3 linked regions of the Homo sapiens genome follow. The protein of the gene in region 3 interacts with the protein of the main gene of each other region in a pairwise test. Each region holds a gene or a part of one and is shown on either strand. Other genes may lie near its edges.

Region 1 (7,026 bases), on a different chromosome or scaffold from region 3:
GAACGGGCCACTTTTCTGTGCAATGCCCATGCTCTCCACACTACCAGCTTGCCTGGGTGCAGAGGCCCCGTTCTGCTGCTGGCCCTGCCCAATCCCCTGACTTATCTCCCTCTCTCTTCCCACCCTGGCTGCTTATCAGCTCCTGGGGGTGGGGCCAGGGGGCCTAGGGGTGAGGTCTCCTATGCAGCAGCCACGTGACAGAGGTTGAGGTCGTATGTTGGGGAGCTGTACCCTTTGTCCCCCTCCTACCCGCCACACCTGCCTGTGTGCACACAGACAGTAAGCCACAGGTCTGCAGCCCAGGGTCAGAGGTGCAATGCCGTAGGAATGGTGGGCCCGGCTTGGCACTGCCCTGGACTCCAGGTAGCAGAACAAGGCTAGCATTAGGGCCAGGCTGTGAGGCTTATCCCACAGCCACCTGCTTACTAGTTGTGTGAACTTGAGTGAATGACCAAGCTTTCTGAGACTCAGTTTCCTCATCTGTGAAGTTCTCGTGCCCTCTTTGGAGGGTACAGATTCTCTCTCCAGTTAATATGTGTTAGTTTCCTTTCCTTTCCCCCTTGCCATCCTGGTCGATAGCAGCTCAGCTAAACCAACTGAGAAGTCTGGTCCTCTGCCTGGGAAGTGGGATTCGAGACCTTGCGTGGGAAGCTCTGGAGTCCCTGAGGGGCCAGAGTTGGGGATCATAACTTGGCTGGCAGCATGGGAGGTCAGTTCCCTACAGCTTTCAACATCTCTCTCTATTAAGGCACAAAGATGGGCATTCATGCTCACTGCGTGCCGCTCTATGTCCCATCCTTCCTTCACAGATACCCTCCCTGCCTATGCTGAAAACTGCTTGTCTCTGGTCCCCTCTTGCCCCTATAATACAGATGAGTTTCAGGAAAGCTTTTCTAGAGGGGTGGTAACAATAGCTAGTGTTTAATAGTTGCTCATTAAGGGCCAGGCATTTGTCTGAATATGAAGACTGAGACATATTACTTAGTACATGAATGATCTCATTCTCTCCCTCCATTCCTTCCCATGTCTGGGGCTTAGGAGGTGGATCTCCAATCTCGCCTGCTGTACCTGTTATCTAAGGGATCATCCTGGTCCCCTCTCTATGCCTGCCCTTCCTGCCCCCTGCTGTCTTGTTATGGGATCCCAAAGCCCCAAATGTTGCCACCAAAGGGATCCTACCCACCTTCCTACCGTGACACCTTCTTACCCCTGCCTCTCTCTTCTCTCCACAGGGATCTCTGGACAGGACAAGACTCCGAAGCTACTCCCCCAGCACACAGCCCGGGACCCACAAACCCAGCTTGCCCCCAGCCCTCCCACCTGCCACTCCCTGGCCCCTCCCACCGCCCGCCCCCCTTGGGGCGCAGGGCATGGTGTGAAAGGCCAAGTGCTGAGGCGGGTATCATGGGTGCTGTGCCCTAGGGCCTGGGTGGCAGGGGGTGGGTGGCCTGTGGGTGTGCCGGGGGGGCCAGTGTGCCCACCCCAGTCTCTTGGCGTGCTGGAGGGCATCCTGGATGGAATTGAAGTGAATGGAACAGAAGCCAAGCAAGGTGGAGTGTGGGTCAGACCCAGAGGAGAACAGGTAATGGGTTCAGCAACTAGGTCATGCCAACTCCTAAGCAGCAGGCATGGGCACCTGGCTGAGCTCTCCTTTAGGCACCGCCTTTAAGCACCTCTGTGGGATGGACGTGAGGCCAGCAAGCCTTCTGCCTACCTTTGTCTGGCAGATGAAGTCATGTTCAGATGTGACAGGCACTTGGATTGAGAGATGCTCATTTTGAAGCGGGGAGCGATACAGAGCAATTACAGGGAGCACATAAGGGGCTCTTCCCTAGACATTGCTGGGCAGTCTCAGATGCCCCCAACGTCCCTTCCACCATTGCTGCCCTTACCTTGAGCATGTGGGATCCAAACAGCCTTGCCATTTTCTTCCTCTCCCTACCAGCCCATTTACTATCTGACCACAAGTGTGTTGTCCACAAGCTGCGGTTCACGTAATACATTTCAGGGCACATGCACCAGTAACTATTGGTCATAGCCCAAGCTTATATTCGGAATCTATTGGGAGCCCCACAAGCTCTTCCTTGTTCATGGTCAAGGGCGGGCACTGCGATGGGGCTCCTCCCAGAAAGTGCACGCCAACCATGATGGTTTTGCTTCCACATGGGTGAGGTGTCAGCCCTGCACATACACCAAGGGATGGTTACCTGTGATCTGCATTGCCCTTGAGGAGCCCAGAGGGTCTCTGTCTTTTCTATCAGCTCCAAGTGGCACAGAGCTTTGTCCCAGTTGGCACGGTGCCCTGGGAGCTGGGTACAGCCTGTGCCTATGGCCAGGGAGAGGGTGGGGGTGGGGGTGCTCCGGGGAGCAGTGTGGCTGACTGTTGCCTAGGAGATCAGATCCCGAGCCAGGAAGCCAGAGGCCTGGCCAGGCAAAGCCCTAAGGCCCACAACTGGGTCCCTGGAGGGTAGAGGAAGTAGATGGAACTCACAGCTGGGCAGGGCATGGGGTAGCTCCCCTCCCCCAAAGCCTCACCCCAGGAAGGACTCTGAGGACGATCTGGCCTGTCGCTGTGTGGCTGTCACTTGCAGCCCCTGTGTCTCCCAGCTTAGGCTTCTGTGGGTCTGGAAGAGTCTGTGCTTAATGTTTGGAGAAAGGCAGGAATGCCAGTTCCCAGTCTCCTAAGACTGCAACCCCTCCCCCATCACCTTCCCCTCCCCCATGTCTATGCGCCACCTTGTGGCTATCTCTAGGACTACACTCAGAGGCTGTGAGTCTGGTGGTAACTGCTGAAGCCGCTAGCTCAACTGGGGCCTAGGTGGGCTGAGTTCCCCTGCACCCAACCCTCTGGGAGGCGTGAGGGAGACCTGACCTTTCAGCCTCATAGGAAGTAGACCGGAGTAATCCCCACGGGGCGTGGAGCATAGGGTTGTCTGTGACTGTGACCCTGGCCAAGGTCACTGTGTCAGTGTGTTGGGAGCTGCATCCGGCTCCAGGAGGAAGGGGCCTGCAACATGCCACACGCAGGGTGGGTGCGGGAGGTTATACAATCCTTGCATGCATGTAGAGGGCTTATGTAACCTGTGTGCACCGAGGTTATGCAACATGTATGTGGAGAGCCTGGCAACATATATGTGCAGTGGCTGAGGGTTGCTAATAATACGCTGCACAGAGGGGCTCAGTCCCGGCTCTGACTCTAGCTCATGGTGTCACCAGGCACAAGCAGGGTCTCAGTTTGCTGCTCTGTTAAATGGAGGCTGTGCAGAGGGTGTAGTGTTTTCTATTGCTGTGGGTTATTTAGCATGTGTGTATGACCTGGAGCTCAAGCAACACGTGCACACTGGAGGGATGAGGGTGGTTTTATGAGGTGCCTGTGCAGAGTGTTGTGTAACACATGGGCATATCCTAGAGGTTGTATAGCACATTTAAGAATGCCCTGAAAATTTCACAGGTATGTTGGCCCTGGTGCATACTCACCATCCATGGGTTTATAGTGAAGGTTGCATGGTTATTCATCTGTGCCGGTGTTATGTTGCATATGTATGTGTGTGTTCTAAAGGCTACATAGCTTTAAGCATATCCTGAGAATTCTTCCAGCGTATTCGTCATGTACTGAAAGATGAGGATGTCCTGCAGATTATGGGTGCTTCAGGTCTTCTGGCGGGTGAATGTGTGTGTGTTGGGGCTCTAGAATATGCTTGTGCCACAGCCAAGCCCCTTATCTCTCTCCCCTGCAACTTCCAGATAACTGGACCCTTTTAAGCATTGTCAGCTGACCCTGGGGGGTGGGAGGTAGAATGAGGACACAAAATGGAAAGAATCAGGCCTTGGGGGATTGCATAAGCCTCTCGGATGAGAAAGGGGCTACTCGAAGACTGCTCTGTGATTCTGCCCACTTTGCCTCCATCCAGTGCCAGGTCACCAGATGGAAAGCGAAAAAGAAAGAACGGCCAATGTTCCCTGAAAACCAGCATGTCAGGTGAGGCTGGCTGTGCGTGCCCCTTCTCCACGTCCCCAACCCCACCAAACCCAGCCAGGGCTCCTCTGGACCTGGATGTGGAACAGTAATTCATGTGTTCCCTGGGGGGAGCCTCCTAGAGGGCTTGGGATGGACTTGTCTGGGGGTGAGAAAGGTAATGTGGGATGTGCCCAGCTTTTGAGGGTGGATTAGGTCAGGACGGCCTCTTCCCTCTTCCCCTAATACCCTCATCTGAGGCCCTACCAGAATCAGGGCCTGAGCTGAAGGACTGAGGGGCTGTATTATCCCCAGTGAGCAGCTGACGTTTATTTTTCCCTCTCCACCATCCTCTGCCTTGTAGATAGATCAAGAAGAAAGCCCTGAATGGGCAGTCAGAAGAACTGAGATTCTTCATACTCTTAGGGCAGAGATGGACAGGTTCACCTCGTGTCTCTCTAGGATTCTACCAGGGAGGCTGGGCTAGGAGAGGGGTCAGAAACAAAAAGTTGAGGGATGGGGAAAAGTGTGAGAGCCTCTCTGCTGGGACTCCAAGCCATGCCTGCCTTCCTCCATCCTTTCCTTCCTCCCAGGGTATATCCCTAGTTACCTGGACAAAGACGAGCAGTGTGTCGTGTGTGGGGACAAGGCAACTGGTTATCACTACCGCTGTATCACTTGTGAGGGCTGCAAGGTATGGAAGCTACCTCCTGCCCCTCCCCTGCCACCTGAGCCCCCATATTACTCCCTATGTCACCTAAAGCCCGCCTGTTAGGTCATCACTTTTTTTTTTTTTCTTTGAGACGGAGTCTCACTCTTGTCCCCCAGGCTGGAGTGCAGTGGCGCGATCATGGCTCACTGCAACCTCCGCCTTCAGGTTCAAGTGATTCCCCTACCTCGGCCTCCTGAGTAGCTGGGATTACAGGTATGCACCTCCACACCCAGCTAGTTTTTTTGTATTTTTAGTAGAGACGGGGTTTCACTATGTGGCCAGGCTGGTCTCGAACTCCTGACCTCAGGTGACCACCCGTCTCAGCCTCCTGAAGTGCTGGGATTACAGGCATACCTGCCTGGTTACTTTCTCTTCTCTTCTCTTATTCATTCATTTACTCATTCATAACTCCTCCTCTGCCACTCACAGGAAAATTGCCTAACTTCTTCGAGCCTTAGTTTCAGTTTCTTCATCTATAAAATGAGGATAATCATTCTCTCTACCTTATAGCATTGTTGGGAGAATTAAATATGTTGGGAGATAGTTCACTTGAAGTGTTTAAAACAGTGCCATTGGGTGCTGTGGCTCATGCCTAAAATCCCAGCCCTTTGGGAGGGAGGCCAAGGCGGGAGCATCCCTTGATCCCAGGAGTTTGAGACCAGCCTAGCTAACACAGTGAGACACTGTCTCTACAAAATTAAAGAAATTAGCTGGGTGTGGTGCCACATGCCTGTGGTCCCAGCTACTCAGGAGGCTGAGGTGGGAGACTGCTTGAACCCAGAAGGTCAGGGCTGCATTGAACGGTGGTGGCGCCACTGCACTCCGGCCTGGGTGACAGAGCAAGATTCTGTCTCAAAGTAAAATAATAAAATAAAATAAAAAATAGTGCCATGTGCATAAGAAGCATTTGATAAATGCCAGCCATCACCCATTCATTCAGTGTATTCTTAGGTGTGAGAGTGTAGTACGTACCTCGCCTTCAAGCTGCTCACAGCCTGTCAGAGAGAGAGACACAACTTGAAACAAACATCAGTGTTATTCAAAATGTGGTTCATGGACCACCTGTCCTACTAGTTAAAATGCAGATTCCCAGCCTTCATCTTTTTTTTTTTTTTTTTTTTTTGAGATGGCATCTCGCTCTGTTGCCCAGGTTGGAGTGCAATGGTGTGATCTCGGCTCACTGCAACCTTCGCCTCCCGGGTTCAAGCGATTCTCCTGCTTCAGCCTCCTGAGTGGCTGGGACTACAGGCACCTGCCACCACGCCCAGCTAACTTTTATATTTTTAATAGAGACAGGGTTTCACCATGTTGACCAGGATGGTCTTGATCTCTTGACCTCGTGATCCGCCCGCCTTGGCCTCCCAAAGTGCTGGGGTTACAGGTGTGAGCCACTGCGCCCAGCCTGCCCAGGCTTCATCTTAACCCTGCTCACTCAGAGCCCTTTTGTGGAGCCCAGGAATCTTCCTTTTAACAGAATCCCGGAGTGTTTCCCATGCACCTGAAAGAGCGAGAGCCAGTACTGGGGGGGTAGTGGGAGCTGGGAGCACAGAGGAGAAGAGGACAGCAGGTTCTTCCAGGCAGAGGGGATGACAAGGTCATAGATTTTGGGAGGCCTAATTGTTTTGTTTTGTTTTTTTTGAGATGGAGTCTCGCTCTGTTGCCCAGCCTGGAGTGCAGTGGTGCAATCTTGGCTCACTGCAACCTCCACCTCTCGGGTTCAAGCAATTCTCCCTGCTTCAGCATTGGTAGCTGGGATTACAGACACCTGCCACCAAGCCTGGCTAATTTTTGTATTTTTAGTAGAGATAGGGTTTCACCATGTTAGCCAGGCTGGTCTCGAACTCCTGACCTCAGGTGATCTGCCTGCCTCTGCATCCCAAAGTGCTTAAGAGGCCTAATTAGATTTCACTTTGATCATTTCAGCCTGGATAGCCTTTCCAGGATCACCTCCTAAAAATGCAAGGCCTTCCAAGAAACAGAATTATTTAAATCCCAGCACTTTGGGAGTCCAAGGCAGGCAGATCACCTGAGGTTACCACACCCGGTGGCACTGTTTTAAACACTTCAAGTGAATTGTCTCATTTAATTCTCCCAACAGTGCTATAAGGTAGATAAAATGATTATCCCCATTTTATAGATGAAGAAACTGAGACTCAGAGAAGTTAGGCAATTTTCTTGTGAGTGACAGAGGAGGGATTATGAATGAGCAAATGAACGAATGAGTAAGGTCAGGAATTTGAGACCATCCTGGCCAACATGGTAAAAGCCTGTCTCTACTAAAAATACCAAAATTGGCCAGGTGTAGTGATGTACGCCTGTAATCCCACCTACTTGGGAGGCTGAGGCAGGAGAATCTCTT
Region 2 (7,026 bases), on a different chromosome or scaffold from region 3:
CATGAAATTGTTGGGTCTGTAAACCTGAAAGGAGTTTATTATTTTTATTTTCTTTTTCAAAACAGAAAAAATGCCTGTCTTAAAGGCTGAAGCGTCACATTATAACTCTGACTTAAATAACTTGCTGTTCTGCTGCCAGTGTGTGGACGTGGTATTTTACAACCCCAATTTAAAGAAAGTTGTAGAGGCCCACAAGATCGTTCTCTGCGCTGTAAGCCATGTTTTCATGCTGCTTTTCAATGTGAAGAGTCCCACTGACATTCAGGATTCCAGTATCATCCGAACTACCCAGGATCTTTTTGCTATAAACAGAGATACTGCATTTCCAGGTGCTAGCCATGAATCTTCAGGCAACCCACCATTACGAGTCATTGTTAAAGACGCCCTCTTCTGTTCTTGTTTATCAGACATCCTTCGCTTCATTTATTCAGGTATCTTGTCAAGTGGTTCTGGTTACTTACAATCTCATAAGCTTTGGAAATGAAATGTGCCTGTGACACTCAAGGGTACTGGTTAGTTTTACAGTGGTCTTTACCTACCATCTGAGATTAAGATTATACATGAAATATTATTTGCTTTATATATAAGAATTGGTCCAAGCTTTCTGTTTTCCTTACAAATGTACTTGCCTCATCTTTTCCCTATCAATTTCATTTTATTGTGGTAAAATACATAGAACATAAATTTTACCATCTTAACCATTTTTAAGAACACAGTTCAGTGGAATTAAACACATTCATAATGTTGTGTAACTATCACCACCATCCGTGTCCATAATTCTTTGCATCTTATAAAACTGAAACTCTATACCCATTAAACGATGATTCCCCATTCCGACCTCTTTCCAGCCCCTGACAGCCACCATTCTACTTTCTGTCTCTGTGATTTTAACTCTCCTAAGTGCCTCATGTAAGTGGAATCATACAGTATTTGTCATTTTGTGATTGATGTATTTTACTTAGCATAATGTCTTAAAGGTTCATCCAAGTTGTGGCATGTATCAGGATTTTCTTCCTTTTAAGGTTGATAATATTCTGTAGTACATATAGACCACATTTTGTTTACCCATTCATTCATCCATGGACGCTTGGGTTGCTTCCACTGTTTTAGCTATTGTGAGTAATGCTGCTGTGAACATAGTGTACAAATATCTCTTTTGAGACTCTGCTTTTATTTTATTTTTTGCATATATACACAGAAGTGGAATTGCTGGATCACATGGTAATTCTGTTTTTGATTTTTTACTGCCATACTGTTTTCCACACTAGCTATACCACTTTATGTGCCTACAAACTGTGCACAAGGGTTCCAATTTCTCCACATCCTTGCCAACACTTGCTGTTTATTTTTTTTAATAGTAGCCATCTTAATGGGTTTGATGTGGTATCTAATTCTGGTATTGATTTGCATTTCCCTAATGATTAGTGATATCAAGCATCTTTTCATATGTTTTTGTATTTGCCTTGGTTTTAAATCTACTTGTAAAAACCATAATCTGCCAAACAAGTATGTTAATATTTTATTTCTTTAAAAAACATCCAAAATATGAAATGTGAGAATTTATTGTCCAATTTAGTTTTAAAGACATAAAATATTCCAAGAGTAAATGAAATCAAGTGTCTACACCTTAAAACCTAGCTATTCACTCTTCGGTTTGACTCTTAGGTTTTGTAGGGCGTGAAAGAGAGAATTGCATTCAGCTTACGGACTGGAAATCAATATCCAGTGTTAGTTGAGGTCTAATTAACTTTGGCTATGACTATCATAGACGTTACTTTTTTTTTTCCTTACTGTGCCCTTTCTTTTTAAGATTTAGCTTATCAAGTATTTTTCTCTTTGCCCTTTTAAAAACTCAGTAGCAACTATATTTTAAAGATGGAAGTTCTATCTGAGTCATTTTAGCAAATGAATTGAAGGTCTTACATCTAAGTGTCCCATGTAAGAGTGGAAAAGAACAGATGTAAAATGAATTTTAATGTAAGCATCTAAATATAAGTTTTCTCAGAACTCCTGTCTTTAATTTTCTTTACCCACTTCAAATCATGTAGCGATAACCTGTTAGGCTAAGGTCACTCCTGCTCTGCAGTGTGTCTGGAGAAACATTTATAATTAATTTGTTTTTAGGGTTCAAGTAAAGCCTAATTGGGAACAGACAAAAAGTTTAAGGTTTGCAAGGCAAGTATCATTTCATACAGGTAGGGAAATTTGGGGCAGCCTTTATTTAAGTAATTGATGTTAAAAATAAGGTATTACTTTGTTCATGTGGTTTGTGGTCATGTAATTTTATAAGTTAAAACTTAAATTATGATTTTGAAAAGTACAGTTGCAGCACGCAGATTTATGTGGATAAAAAATACATATTGGAGTAGAATGTGGTGCTAGGTTAGTGAAATATTGGCTTGGAAAAAGCATAAATTAAGCACCTGTACAGCACACACCCAGCACATTGCCTTCAACGGGTTCTCTGTAAGTTTTAGTTGAATTAAAGAGTAGGCTCCAGTAGCCGGGCATCATCATATCAGTAAGCCAAACTATTTAAAGACTTCATTTAGTACTATAGATTTTGACGTTTAAACTTAGAATGTCACAGTTCAGAATTTAAGATTTTGAAAAACTAACATGTTTACATGTTAAGAGAAAAAAGATGTTTTTAATCATATGTTTAAGGAACTGTGAGGGATGTGACTTTTGTATGATAATTTTCTGTTGAAATTACATGAATTATTCAGTAGGCTTCCACAATTATTATTGACTACTTTCAAAGGCATATGAGCACTCTGACGTCTTATATCCTTTTTAACATAGTAGCAGTAAAATAGCTAGATGTATCTCCAGTGGCTGATCCTGCCTAGCTTTCTCCTAGGGGGAGTGCTTTATTTAATTGCAAAATTAATACAGGCAGATGGAAAAAAAGAGAAAGAAAAGAAAAAAGTTATCCTTCTACCCTAGACCCTTTCCCCGGAGTCATTTACCTGTTGTAATTTTTTTATGCACTCATTCTGATACTGTTTGAAAGAGATTAATATTCTGGGGACATTTGATTAATAAAAGTGTAATCCTAGGTATCTGCTGCTTTCCAGGGATCACAGGCCGTTTCCCATGGCTGGAGCGTAGAGTGAAAGGTGATGGCTGGTGGGTGATGAGGTGGGCAAGGCCTGTGGAAGCTGTTCCTGCTGCTCTTAGACTTGTGCTAGAGTTTTAAGCATGATCAGACTGGGCTTTAGAAAGCTCATCTCTGGTTGTGGTTGCAGGGTGGAACAGTGCGGCCAAGACAGGCATTCAATCAGGAGGTCCCATTACTCTGGCGATCAGCCTCAGGAAGGCCAACATTCAGACAGTGGGTGGCCCTGCCATTGGCCCTTCATCGTCTAGACCAGTGCTTTTCAAACCTTAAAGTGTGTGCAGATCATCTGAGGATCTTGTTCCTGTGGAGATTCTGATTCAGTTACCTGGAGTGGGGCATGAGATTCTGCATTTCCAGTAGTCTCCGAGGTGGTGCTGGATCTCTGGACTGCCAGAAGCAGCTGGAATACCTGCTTTTGGAAGAACTGGGAACCAGCCAAAACCAGCAAACTAGGGCCTAGAATTCAGTGCAGAGGCCCAGGAAGGCTACCAAGTTAACAGCTTAGGATTCAAAGTAAAAATGGGGTGAGCTGTAAGGCTGACTGATGCAGTGCTATTCAGAACTGGGGCTCTCAGTGCCCTGTGTGTCCCTGACGCGAGGAAAAATGGATGCCTAGTGGTTGGGTGGAAATTAAGTAAGCCTGGAATAGGGATCGGAGGGCAGGCAGGCATGATGGTGTGGAGAGCCTGCTGAGCTACAGGTCTTCAACCAGTTCAGAGTCCTGGCTTCTTAACCTGACACTGACCCGTCCCATTTCGGCTGTGATCTCTCCTTGTACGTCACGGCCAAAGCCGGAGGTGCTGTCTGGTCTGAGCAGGGGCACGGGCCATTGACCCGGGGCTGCAGAGATCCAGATGCTGGTTAAGGAAAAGGGAAAATAACTGGTTCTGCAGGTATCTATTTATTATTCTTTAATTATTTACAGATTACAACCTCTGGCTCAAGGAAAAGTTTCATTTACATTATGTTAAAAAGAGATATCAAAGCTGTATTTGCACAGAAAAGACAATTTTGAAAAATGCTGAAAATTAAGAGAAAAAAATTTACCCAGATTCCACTATCAACAGAAAATGTTTAAACATTTATTGCTTTGTTTGATCCTCTAGTCATTTGTTTGTGTATGAATAAGTGACACTGTTTTTGAAAAAATGTATTTTGTAATCAAATCAAACAAAAATTTTAAACCTACGTTTTTCTCAGAGACTTCAGTAAATGGGCCAGGCTTGTTTTGTTTTGTTTTTGTTTTAACATTTTTAAACCTGTGAATAGAATACAAGTGTTAAGGCACAGTTATGCAGTGGTTTTCCCACAGAAGTGCTGTGGTCTGCCCTTGGGTTATGCTAGAGAACCATTGAAGACAGGAGTTGTTTGTTTGTGTTCCCATCAGATGGGTTGGTAAAGCAGAGGTTGAACTCCATCATGTGCTCAGGAATATTTGCCTTGAGCAAACACGGGCTAGAGAGTTATAATAAGCCTATCTCCTGTCCTTGTTTTTTTTTTTTTTAAAGAACCAGATTACAAAGAATATCTTAATTCTTTTTAAATAACATGCTTTTTTTAACCTTTAGGAATTTGAAATTTGGTGTGTGTTATGTCACCATGAACATTTGGTTCGTTATTTAGGAGCGACCTGTTTAACAACAGTCCGGTTAACATTTTACACCTATCTATTCCTATTCAAATTTTTGATTCAGTAGACACAGTCAAGGTATATCTGTTTTGTATACGTTAGTTTTCTATTGAATAACAACAAACACTGCATAATGTATAAGTACTTAACTACTAATCCTAAGGAACGAGGAGTAATGTGATAAGTGAAGCCAGCCCTTTCCTGGTCTTCAGGGAGTAATTCTTACATGGCATACAATTGTAACATTCTTATAATACTTGATACAGTGTTATGGTTGCACATTCTTGAGTCATATGATCTCAGATGGTTAGGAAGTGAAGTATTTGTAAGAACCTCAAGAATTTAGCTTTGAGCTCTTCCTGCCACAGATGGCCCTTAGAGTTTCACATCACTTATTGAAATGCCATCTGAGTAGACAAATATGTGGAAGCAAGCTTTCATCTTCAGTTTACATTCTCCAGTTCTTAGAATCATTCCGTGGCATGTCCTTTTCTGTATTGCATAAAAACACAGCCTAGTATACATGAGTATACCATGCGCTCTAAAAGTCTAAGTGGATTCAGTGCTTTAAGAAGTTAACTAAAGAAAATCCCAGTCAGTGATGCAAGATGTCATCCTGCCCTTGTCTGCAGTTGATCAATCAGTAAAGTTATGCAAGATGAGTAAGTTCTGGAGACCTGCTGTATGACATTGTGCCTATTGTTAATGATATCGCATTATATACTTAAAGTTTTCTAAGAGGGTAAATCTGATGTTAAATGTTTTTACCACTGGAAAAATAAAAGGAAAGTCCCAGCCTTAGGATTACTGGTTTATTAGGACCTAAAAGTCTCAAAGATGACTTGATTAATGTTTCTAATTATGAAAACAGCCCAATCAGCAGTGTGCTCTTGAGAATTAGTCTTACTTTCATTTTCAGTGAGTGATTCTTCCTGTGTGTGTTCTCAGACAGTTCAGTGGCCTGTGGGGATTTACCTGCTACTGATTCCATCTATTTAGATTATTTGATGCTTGCTTGCTTTTAGATAATCTTCTGAATGGAGATATTTTATAGGTGTTTTTTAGTTAATATGCTTTTACTTAAATAACAATGTAACTTTTACATATATAAGTATGTAAAAGAACACAGAGACAGTACTTATGTTCTTCTTTAGATTGGATGAGTGCAGACATAAAAAATACTTACATGTTCCCTTTCCTGCATACCACTAACACTGGGTTTGGATAATGGCTGAAATTTCTTTCCTTTTTCCTCTTTTTTTTTTTTTTTTTTTTTGAGACAGGGTCTCACTCTGTCACTCAGGCTGGAGTGCAGTGGCATGATCATGGCTCACTGAAATCTCCGCCTCCTGGGTTCAAGCGATTCTCCTGCCTCAGCCTCCCAGGTAGCTGGGATTACAGGCAGACGCCACCATGCCCAGCTAATTTTTGTATTTTTAGTAGAGATAGGGTTTCCCCATGTTGGCCAGGCTGGTCTCGAACTCAGTGGTTGAAATTTCTAAAGGGAAAGCAGTGGCCGTCAGCAGCATACCATGCACATTAGGGTCACCAGGGAGAATTTTAAAACACTGATGCCAGGGGCTTCAGGCCCAGAAATTCTAATTCACTTGATCTGGAGATGAGACCTCCTCTCATGGTATTTTATAAAAGATCTCAGGTATTTATAATACACAGGTATGGTTGATAATCACTGGCATAGAGTAATTTTATTGATCTGGGATCCATTGGCTTCTAAGGGGTTCTTACACTCTCACATTGTTATACTGACTTTAATGTTTGTGTGCACATGAAATTTTCTGGTCATACAATCCCAAGAATTTATGAGATGGGAAAAGAGGATGTGGCCACACAGTTAAAAAGCATTCATGCAGAAAGAGAAAAACAGAAATCATAGAGCTCTTCTACACTACACAGCTTTGAGAATTTGAGGAGGAAGGGGAGCAATCAGTGAAAGCATAAAAAGAGCTAGCAAAGGCAGAAAGAAGCAGTGGTGTGCTGGAGCTGGCACCAGCTTGTGAGAGCCCAGTTGTGTTTATCATCCCCATTTCCTTGTTCTGTGATGTCATGTTGATAGCATCAAAAAATGGCAAATGCTACATATCATTTGACTCCCTCCCCCAGGAGACACTGTAAGTATTAGGAAGGCCAGGTGGGGAGAAGTTGAAAGGATATGCATTAGTGCTTAGTGCTGCAGGGCTCAGCTGTAAGAGCCTGAGAGCTTCTGGACTTGCAATCTGCCCCTTCCAATTGGATTTGGTTTTAGTTGGTACAG
Region 3 (7,253 bases):
AGGATGATTTCAAGAATTGTTCTTTTAGAAAATTTCTATAGAAAGGTTCAATTTTACCTTAAGACTTGTGACCAATAGCACACATTGTAACATGGGGGACCGGGGTTAGGAAAGCAGTCTGTGGCTATGAAACAGATCAAAACTAACTAGCCATTAGGGAATGAAACCCATGACCTCCATCTCATTAGTACCAGGCTTAAGCCAAGCTGAATGAGCTATTCATTGATAACATTATGATACCTATTGGATGAGCCTTTACTCTTTACTTAAAAATCCCTTTCTCGGTTCCATATTATTTGTACTAAAATATGATTGTGTTGCTGTTATGTGAGAAGGAGTAGGGAGATACATGGCTTTCAAGGAGACTTCAGAAATCAGACTGAGCGCAGTGGCTTATTCCTGTAATTCCAGCACTTTGGGAGGCCGAGGCAGGAGGATCACTTGAGCTCAGGAGTTTGAAACCACCAGGGCAACATAACGAGATCTCCATCTCTACAAAACATAAAAAACATCAGCCAGGCATGGTGGCATGCTCCTGTAGTCCTAGCTACTTGGGAGGCTGAGGTGGGAAGATCATTTGAGCTTGGGAAGTCGAGGCTGCAGTGAGCTGTGATTGCGCCATTAAACTCCAGCCCAGGTGACAGAGCAAGCCACTGCCTCCAAAACACAACAACAAAAACTTCAGGAAGCAGGGCCAATTAAAAGGAAAAAAAAGGGAAAAAATCAATTACTCTGTTTACTTTATCTAAGTAGGGAGAGAACTGAAGCTCCTAAAACGTGAGGTGACATGGCTAATGGTTCCCAGTGGTGGTAGCAGAACTGGATTAGAACACCAGTCTCTTGGACTTCACTCCTGGGCACTTTCAATTTGTGAAGGGCTGGCTCATGGAAAATGTAATCCTTGAATTTTTCCAGGACATGAGGGGCCTGTCTTATCAATGCAGGACAAGCATAGTGTTAGGAAAAGGGTGCTAAGCATTTTTGTTTGTTTGTTTGTTTGTTTTGAGACAGAGTTTCGCTCTTGTTGCCCAGGCTGGAATGCAATGGTGCAATCTCGGCTTACTGCAACCTCTGCCTCTTGGGTTCAAGTGATTCTCTTGCCTCAGCCTCCCAAGTAGCTGGGATTGTAGGCATGCACCACCATGCCCAGATAATTTTGTATCTTTAGTAGAGACGGGGTTTCACCATGTTGGCTGGGCTGGTCTCGAACGCCTGACCTCAGATGATCCATCTACCTAGGCCTCCTGAAGTGCTGGGATTACAGGCGTGAGCCACCACATCCTGCAGTAGCTAAGATTTCTAAAATGAAGTGCATGCAGCATCGACATTCCAGGATGGAGTACAGTGAGAAGTTTTGAATGACATCCATGAGGGTGGGGGATGGGGTGATGAGAGGCTTCAAAAATTCTCTGGAGAGTGAGTACAGTGATTTGTTTAAAACATTTTCTATGTAAAATGACTTTAGCTTCAGAATATTTGGGAATGTAGTAACCTGAAATCATTTTGGGGTGGACAAGTTTGGATATAAACAAATAAATATAAAGAAAAATAAAGGAGTGAGCTCATAGCTGAGTGTGGGACGTCAGGGAAGTTATAGACCTGAACCTGAAGCATGGATTTGGTATTTACATGTGGCAGGGTGGAGGAGGGTGGGATGGGAAGGTGGGAGAGTGGTAGAGGATGATGAGATTAAGTGATGCCGGAAAGAAGGCATTCATCATGAATCATTAACAAGTGAGTGAATGGTGGAAGGTGGAAGGGATGGCAAAGAAGCCTCTGCTAGTATATTACTATTTAGTGAACAGACGGAGAAAGGTCTGGTAAATAGTACACATTTATGCGAAGAATAAAATCATGTTACCTAGCTTCTAATAATGTATTTTACCTCTGTTTTAGATAGTGGCACCAAAGGATTCTTTGTAGAAAACTTTGACAGCAGCCTTTAAAGTCATTATTCCTACAAGTGAGTACTTTCAAAATCTTTACTATCCTGAACCACATCTTGAGAAAAATTGAGATGAGGTTTTAATAATGATCTCCGGAGGAGAAAGAGTGTATCATAGAGAGCCTCAAGTCATCCTTATTTCTGTTAGTGAACCTCTGTCAGTACACTTTCTAGGCAAGCCTTGCTCTTGAAACACTCGGACCTTTACTCAGGACTTCTCTGATTGGTTCATGTTCCCAGACACCTTCTGGGAAGAAGAATGGCATCATGTACCCTGGATGTTTGTCCTTCAAGAATCAGCTTAGCCATCACTTCTAATGTAAAGCCTTTCCTTATTGCCACTGGTGCTCAACTGTGTTTGCTCTACATACCTCTGCTATAACATTTTCCATATAACATTACTGTAACATAATGCCCAATTTACTACACTGTCTCTCCACCAGGCTGAATTTCTTGTAGCTGGGGCCTAGTTTTGGTCACCTGTTTATCCCCAGCACCTTGCAGAGCACTTAGCACAGGTAGGCCATTAATACACATTTATAGACTGTTGAACCAGTATCACTGAAAACATAAGTACAACAGAAATATCATCTAGAAATTATCTTGAGAGAAGGAATCTAAAATTGATTTTTCAGAAAGAGGAATCTAAAATTAATTTAGTTTCCATGGGGGCAAGGTCTTAGTTTTGTACATAGCTCATGCCCTTTCTTTCCTTCTCCTGCAGTTTGCCTTTGGCCATTTCACTGCTTATTATTCAAGGGCTAGAGAGAAAAGGAGAGAAGCTGAAATTCAGATCAGTTAATTAAGCTGTTTGGGAACAGCTCTGAAAAGGGTTGAATGTGGTGGGTGAAATCAATAGTGAACTGGTGGTTTGAGATCATCTACAGCTCTCACTACCCAGCCTTCTCTACTTCACACCCCTCAGCCAACGGCTGTTCAACGTATGAAGCATTTTATAAGTTCATTTCAGCTTCACAGGATTTGTCCGTTTGTTCTGGAGTACATGTTAAGGCATATGGCCTGATTTTTGGTTTGGAGAATTTGGTCACTACACCAACATTAGATATATCGGGTGGTCTGCTTCTATAGGGTAATTTCATGGTCCTAAGGAAAGAATTTAAGAGTTTATGTTCTGAAACTGGTTCAAGAAACATTCCTTAAGTGAAAAAATTCAATCAAGAATAATATTCCCTACACTGGAGAAGGATTTTTAATATAGAACTTCCATCTGTGATATATTTAAATTCTAGGCCTCAGGCAGCAGTTTCAGAAAAGGGCCTCCTTTACCCTTTATTAGATGCAAAATAGTCTACTCTGGGGATGGGAACTTCCTTTTACCTCCCCCCCCCCGCAAAATCTAAGACATGCTTCCCTCATTCCTAAAATCACACATGCTTTTTTTTTTCACACAGCAAACTCTGCTATTGACATCAAAATGTTTATCAAAACTTTAATTACTCGAATTATTTTGTAAGTACTCCTATTAAGTGGAAAAGACCAGTGAAGCTGTCCAAACGGCGGCCCGCAGTCAATGCGCCGAAAGCTGTCAATACTGAAATGTAATACTCTCTTGATCTAGTTTTGACGCTTTAACAAAGACAGGTTTTGCCATTTAGGACCGCTCAGCCATCTTGACTGAATACCTTAAGAGGGTAGTCCTGGACCTGCTTATTGCCAAGGGACTTTCACAGTGTTCTAAGTTACTGTAGGAATCTCAGCCTATTACTCGACAGAGGCCTAACATGTTGGAGCTGTCAATAAAGATCCGCACTTAGGAAGCGGAAAGAAGGCACAAGTTTTATATGCACACTTTCTTTATTATGCATTGTTCCAGCCATCAAAGAGAGGGAGATTGTACTCTCCCAAAGCTTACAACTTTGTTACTTTTCATGACCTGTAGCATGTATTTAGCCTTTGGGCAGTGTTTGTGCAAGACTAAGGCCCACTCTTTAATGGCTGAATGCATACATTTCACAGCACATGGTGGATTCGCTGCTCTGAGAATTGCCTTTAAAAAAAGTAAAGTGAAAAATAGACAAAGAAATCTGGAACCTTAGCAGTGTTTCCTATTTGTTTGGACTGTTCTTGAACCAGCTCTGAGGCGGTGACCGGGCTATTGAAAAGATGCACCTGAAACAGGATCTGCGGGCAGCTGCATTTGCCACCCGGCTTTATTGCTGCTTTCCAGCGGCGAAGGCGCAGCAGCAGTAACAGGGAAGCCAGAGCGAGCCTCCCCGGCAGCGGCGGCGGCGGCGGCGGCACCGGCACCAGCGCAGTTTCCCCTCTCCCCAGCCCTGACTCTACGCGCACATGCGCATTGCGCCCGCAGCCCTGGACCATTTGTCAGGACTACTCGTGAGACGGAGAAAAAAAAAAGAGAAAATTTGGGGGTAAGAAGCGGTTGATCGGATCTAATCTCTAATTAATCTGAAGATTTGTCCGTGCAAAAGCCATTCATTTATTTTTCTGGGTGAGGATGAAAGTTAAGAGCCCTATAGAGGGAAGGAAGCGCACCCTCGTCTTGTGAAACAGATCAGGGGAGGGGAGGGACAGAAGGGGTTTCTCCCCCACTTCTCTGCGCCTCTGGGAAAGAGGAGAAAACTTAATCCCGGGGAAAAAAGTGGGCAAGTGACTCGGAAACGGCTGGAGGGGGAGTCTCTGGGCATCTCACTCTGAAGTAGTGAGTGCGAGTGTGAAAGAGGAACAAAAGAGAGAGAAAAGAGAAAGGAAAAAATGGGGGGAGGAGAGACTTGTATTTTTTTCTTTGCGCGCACACGGGGAAGGGTGTGGGGGGCCGTGCGGAAGGGAGCCGGGGCGAGGCGGCCGCGTTGGGCTCAGGCTGGCGCGCAGGCGGCGGGATGCGTGTGGCCCCCTCCCCCGCGCCCCCCGAGCTTGTCACTTTGGTCGCTTTCGTGACACCGGGCGCGGGGTGGGGGAGCGCGGCGGCGCCGGGCTCCACCGGGGTGCGTGTCCGGGTGGGCGCCGCGGAGCCGCAGCCCAGGCGGCGAGCGCGGCCGCCGAGGCGGGGGGCGCCGGCGGGGGGCGCGGGGGCGGCCGGGGCCGCGGATCGGTGCGGCGGGAGGCGCGAGCCCCGCGCGCCGCCCCTGCGGCCCCCTCCGCCCGTGTGGCCTTTGTGCCGGGCGCGCACCGGAGAGCGAGCGAGCGGGCGGGCGAGCGCGAGAAGTACAAGTACGGGAGACCGAGGCAGTGGGAAAAGAGGCCGGGCCACTTTCTCCCCTTTCGGGCTGCGGAGAATGGACTGGTTGAATGTGCAGGCGCGTCTCCCCGGCGTGTGCTGTGTGTGTGCGCGGCGGAAAGGCCTGCCCGACTCCCACCGCGCACACGCACACTCACACGCACGCACACACACGGACCCGCGGCGGGGCTCGGCGGCCGAGAGTTTGCGTGGCTTCCTCGCCGCCTCCCTCTTCCCAACCGAGTGTGTGAGAATTTCATATAGATCAGCTCCAATTTCCGCCATTTTGGGAAAGTTGCACAAAAATAAACCCTCCGGTTTATTTCTGCCCGAGGCAGGAAAGTGCTTTGGGAAGCGAGGCGGCGCGGGCCCGCGGCGGCCGTCCGCGCGGGAGAGGGCGCGGGCCGCGGGCCGGGCCGGGAGCCCGCGCCGTCGCGGCGTTCGCCCCGCGCCGTGCCGCGCCGCGCCGGCCCGGGTGCGGGCGCGGGCGCGGGCGTGTGTCGGGAGGCGGCGGCGGCGGTCGCGGCGGCGGCGGCCGCGCCGGGGCGGCGGGCTTGTGGGGGGAGGGTGGGGGCGGCGCGGGGCTGCTTTTCCTGCAACTTGTTTACGCCTGCCTTATTCTGGGGAGGAAAAGAGGGGTCGGGGCCGGGGCCGGCGCCGGGGCCACCGCCCGCCTCGCGCCGCGTGTGTGTGCGGTTCCGGAATAATGGGCTTTGCACACTCGCGTCCTGGGCCCCGCGGGCCGTCCTCGCGCCGCGGCGGCGGGGCGGGGGGAAGTAGAGGCCGGCGGGGGTGGGGATCGGGAAGCGCAGGAGCCGAGGCATCCGCCGCGCGCCCCGCGAGCTGGTGGAGTGTGGGGGCCGCCGGGCGGGGAGAAAAACTTGAGAGCCCTGGAAGGGGAGGAGGGCACGGTGGCACGGGCGGGGGGAGGGCGCAACTTTTGGACTGGTGGTAAAACTTTAATTACCTTTAAAGAAAAAAAGGCCCTGCGATTCCCCCCTCCCCCAGTCCCGGTCAAAGCACAGCCCGCAGCGCGACCGTGAGAGAAAGTTTAAAAGCGGGCGTGTTCCTCCCGGGTCCCCGCGGAGGGCTGGGGGCGTCGGTCTGTCCGTCGCGCTCAGAGGGAGGTGGGGGTAACTAGCCGCTTTCCAGGGCGCGGGGACCGCGGCTCTACCCCACCCTTCCACGGGAGACGGAGGTAAACGTTGCTTCGGTTTCCCTTCTGAGTCCCCCTGCTGCCACCACCCCGCTTCCTTTTCCTCCCCCTCCCCGCCGATTTTTTGAGGGGACCCGAAAAACGGAGTCCCTTTCCTTAGGCAACTTCCTCGGGCGCTGTGAGCACGGCCCTCCCCCTCACCGCCCCCACCCCCAACGCCTCGCATCCCTTGGCCCGCTTCTCCACCTCGGGGCCACCGCCAGAAAAATGCATTCGAGATCATTCAGAGTGCACAGAAACAAAAATAGATTTTTAATTGTTAGGTTAGGGGAAACTGAGATGAGAAATAAGAATTTGGGGTGGGGGGGCGCGGCCGGGGCGAGTGCGTCCAGTTCTCCTTTTGGTTTTCCTAGAGCGTTGTTTGTGATGTCTTTATTGGTTTAGGGAGTCCGAGAGGCTCTATGCTGGCTATCTCGGTCGCGTGGATTTTTGCGCAAGTTTTTAGAAAAACACTGACTCGAGTAGAGAGCATTTCTCCGGAAAGTTTCAAGTGCAGCAAAATAGCGAACGTGCAAAACTGGCCAAGGGGAGACCTCTAGTGGTTGAACGCGTCTTTTAAGTTCGGAAGGCCGAGAGCAAAGTTTGGCCTTTACTCGTAGCTACGTAGTCCGTTCAGACGTGGAAGTAATTAGAGGACCTGAGCGAGCAGCCAGATGTTGTGTGAAAGGATGCTGATCAGAAATTGAAAGTTTAGTAAATCGAAGCAATGAATTCTGAGGACTCAGACCCTGTAACTTCCATCCGACATGAGTTATATGGGAAAGACACTTTGCTTTTATTCAGAGATTTGAGATTGATCGCTCCCTGAATTGGAAACAATTGTTTGCTTTTGCATTTATCGGTGTCTGTACCTCTGATCAATTTTTAATTAACGAGTCTCAGCTGATGACTTTATT

Evidence for each region.
Region 1: the proteins of L3MBTL3 (region 3) and THRA interact in binary tests that used the Homo sapiens proteins (3 or more experiments, as listed by UniProt).
Region 2: the proteins of L3MBTL3 (region 3) and RHOBTB3 interact in binary tests that used the Homo sapiens proteins (3 or more experiments, as listed by UniProt).

The regions. Positions count from the first base shown.
Region 1 is NC_000017.11:40,072,960-40,079,985, forward strand, and holds part of THRA (thyroid hormone receptor alpha), read left to right. Parts: exon of another isoform or gene 1-709; intron 710-1,232; 5' UTR 1,233-1,529; coding exon 1,530-1,582; intron 1,583-3,911; coding exon 3,912-3,979; intron 3,980-4,548; coding exon 4,549-4,649; intron 4,650-7,026.
Region 2 is NC_000005.10:95,755,331-95,762,356, forward strand, and holds part of RHOBTB3 (rho-related BTB domain-containing protein 3), read left to right. Parts: intron 1-65; coding exon 66-431; intron 432-7,026. UniProt on the Homo sapiens protein: Rab9-regulated ATPase required for endosome to Golgi transport. Involved in transport vesicle docking at the Golgi complex, possibly by participating in release M6PRBP1/TIP47 from vesicles to permit their efficient docking and fusion at the Golgi.
Region 3 is NC_000006.12:130,014,330-130,021,582, forward strand, and holds the start of L3MBTL3 (lethal(3)malignant brain tumor-like protein 3), read left to right. Parts: upstream 1-4,251; 5' UTR 4,252-4,335; exon of another isoform or gene 4,336-4,415; intron 4,416-4,471; exon of another isoform or gene 4,472-4,625; intron 4,626-4,730; exon of another isoform or gene 4,731-4,908; intron 4,909-4,991; exon of another isoform or gene 4,992-5,134; intron 5,135-5,314; exon of another isoform or gene 5,315-5,384; intron 5,385-5,935; exon of another isoform or gene 5,936-6,339; intron 6,340-6,397; exon of another isoform or gene 6,398-7,253. UniProt on the Homo sapiens protein: Is a negative regulator of Notch target genes expression, required for RBPJ-mediated transcriptional repression. It recruits KDM1A to Notch-responsive elements and promotes KDM1A-mediated H3K4me demethylation.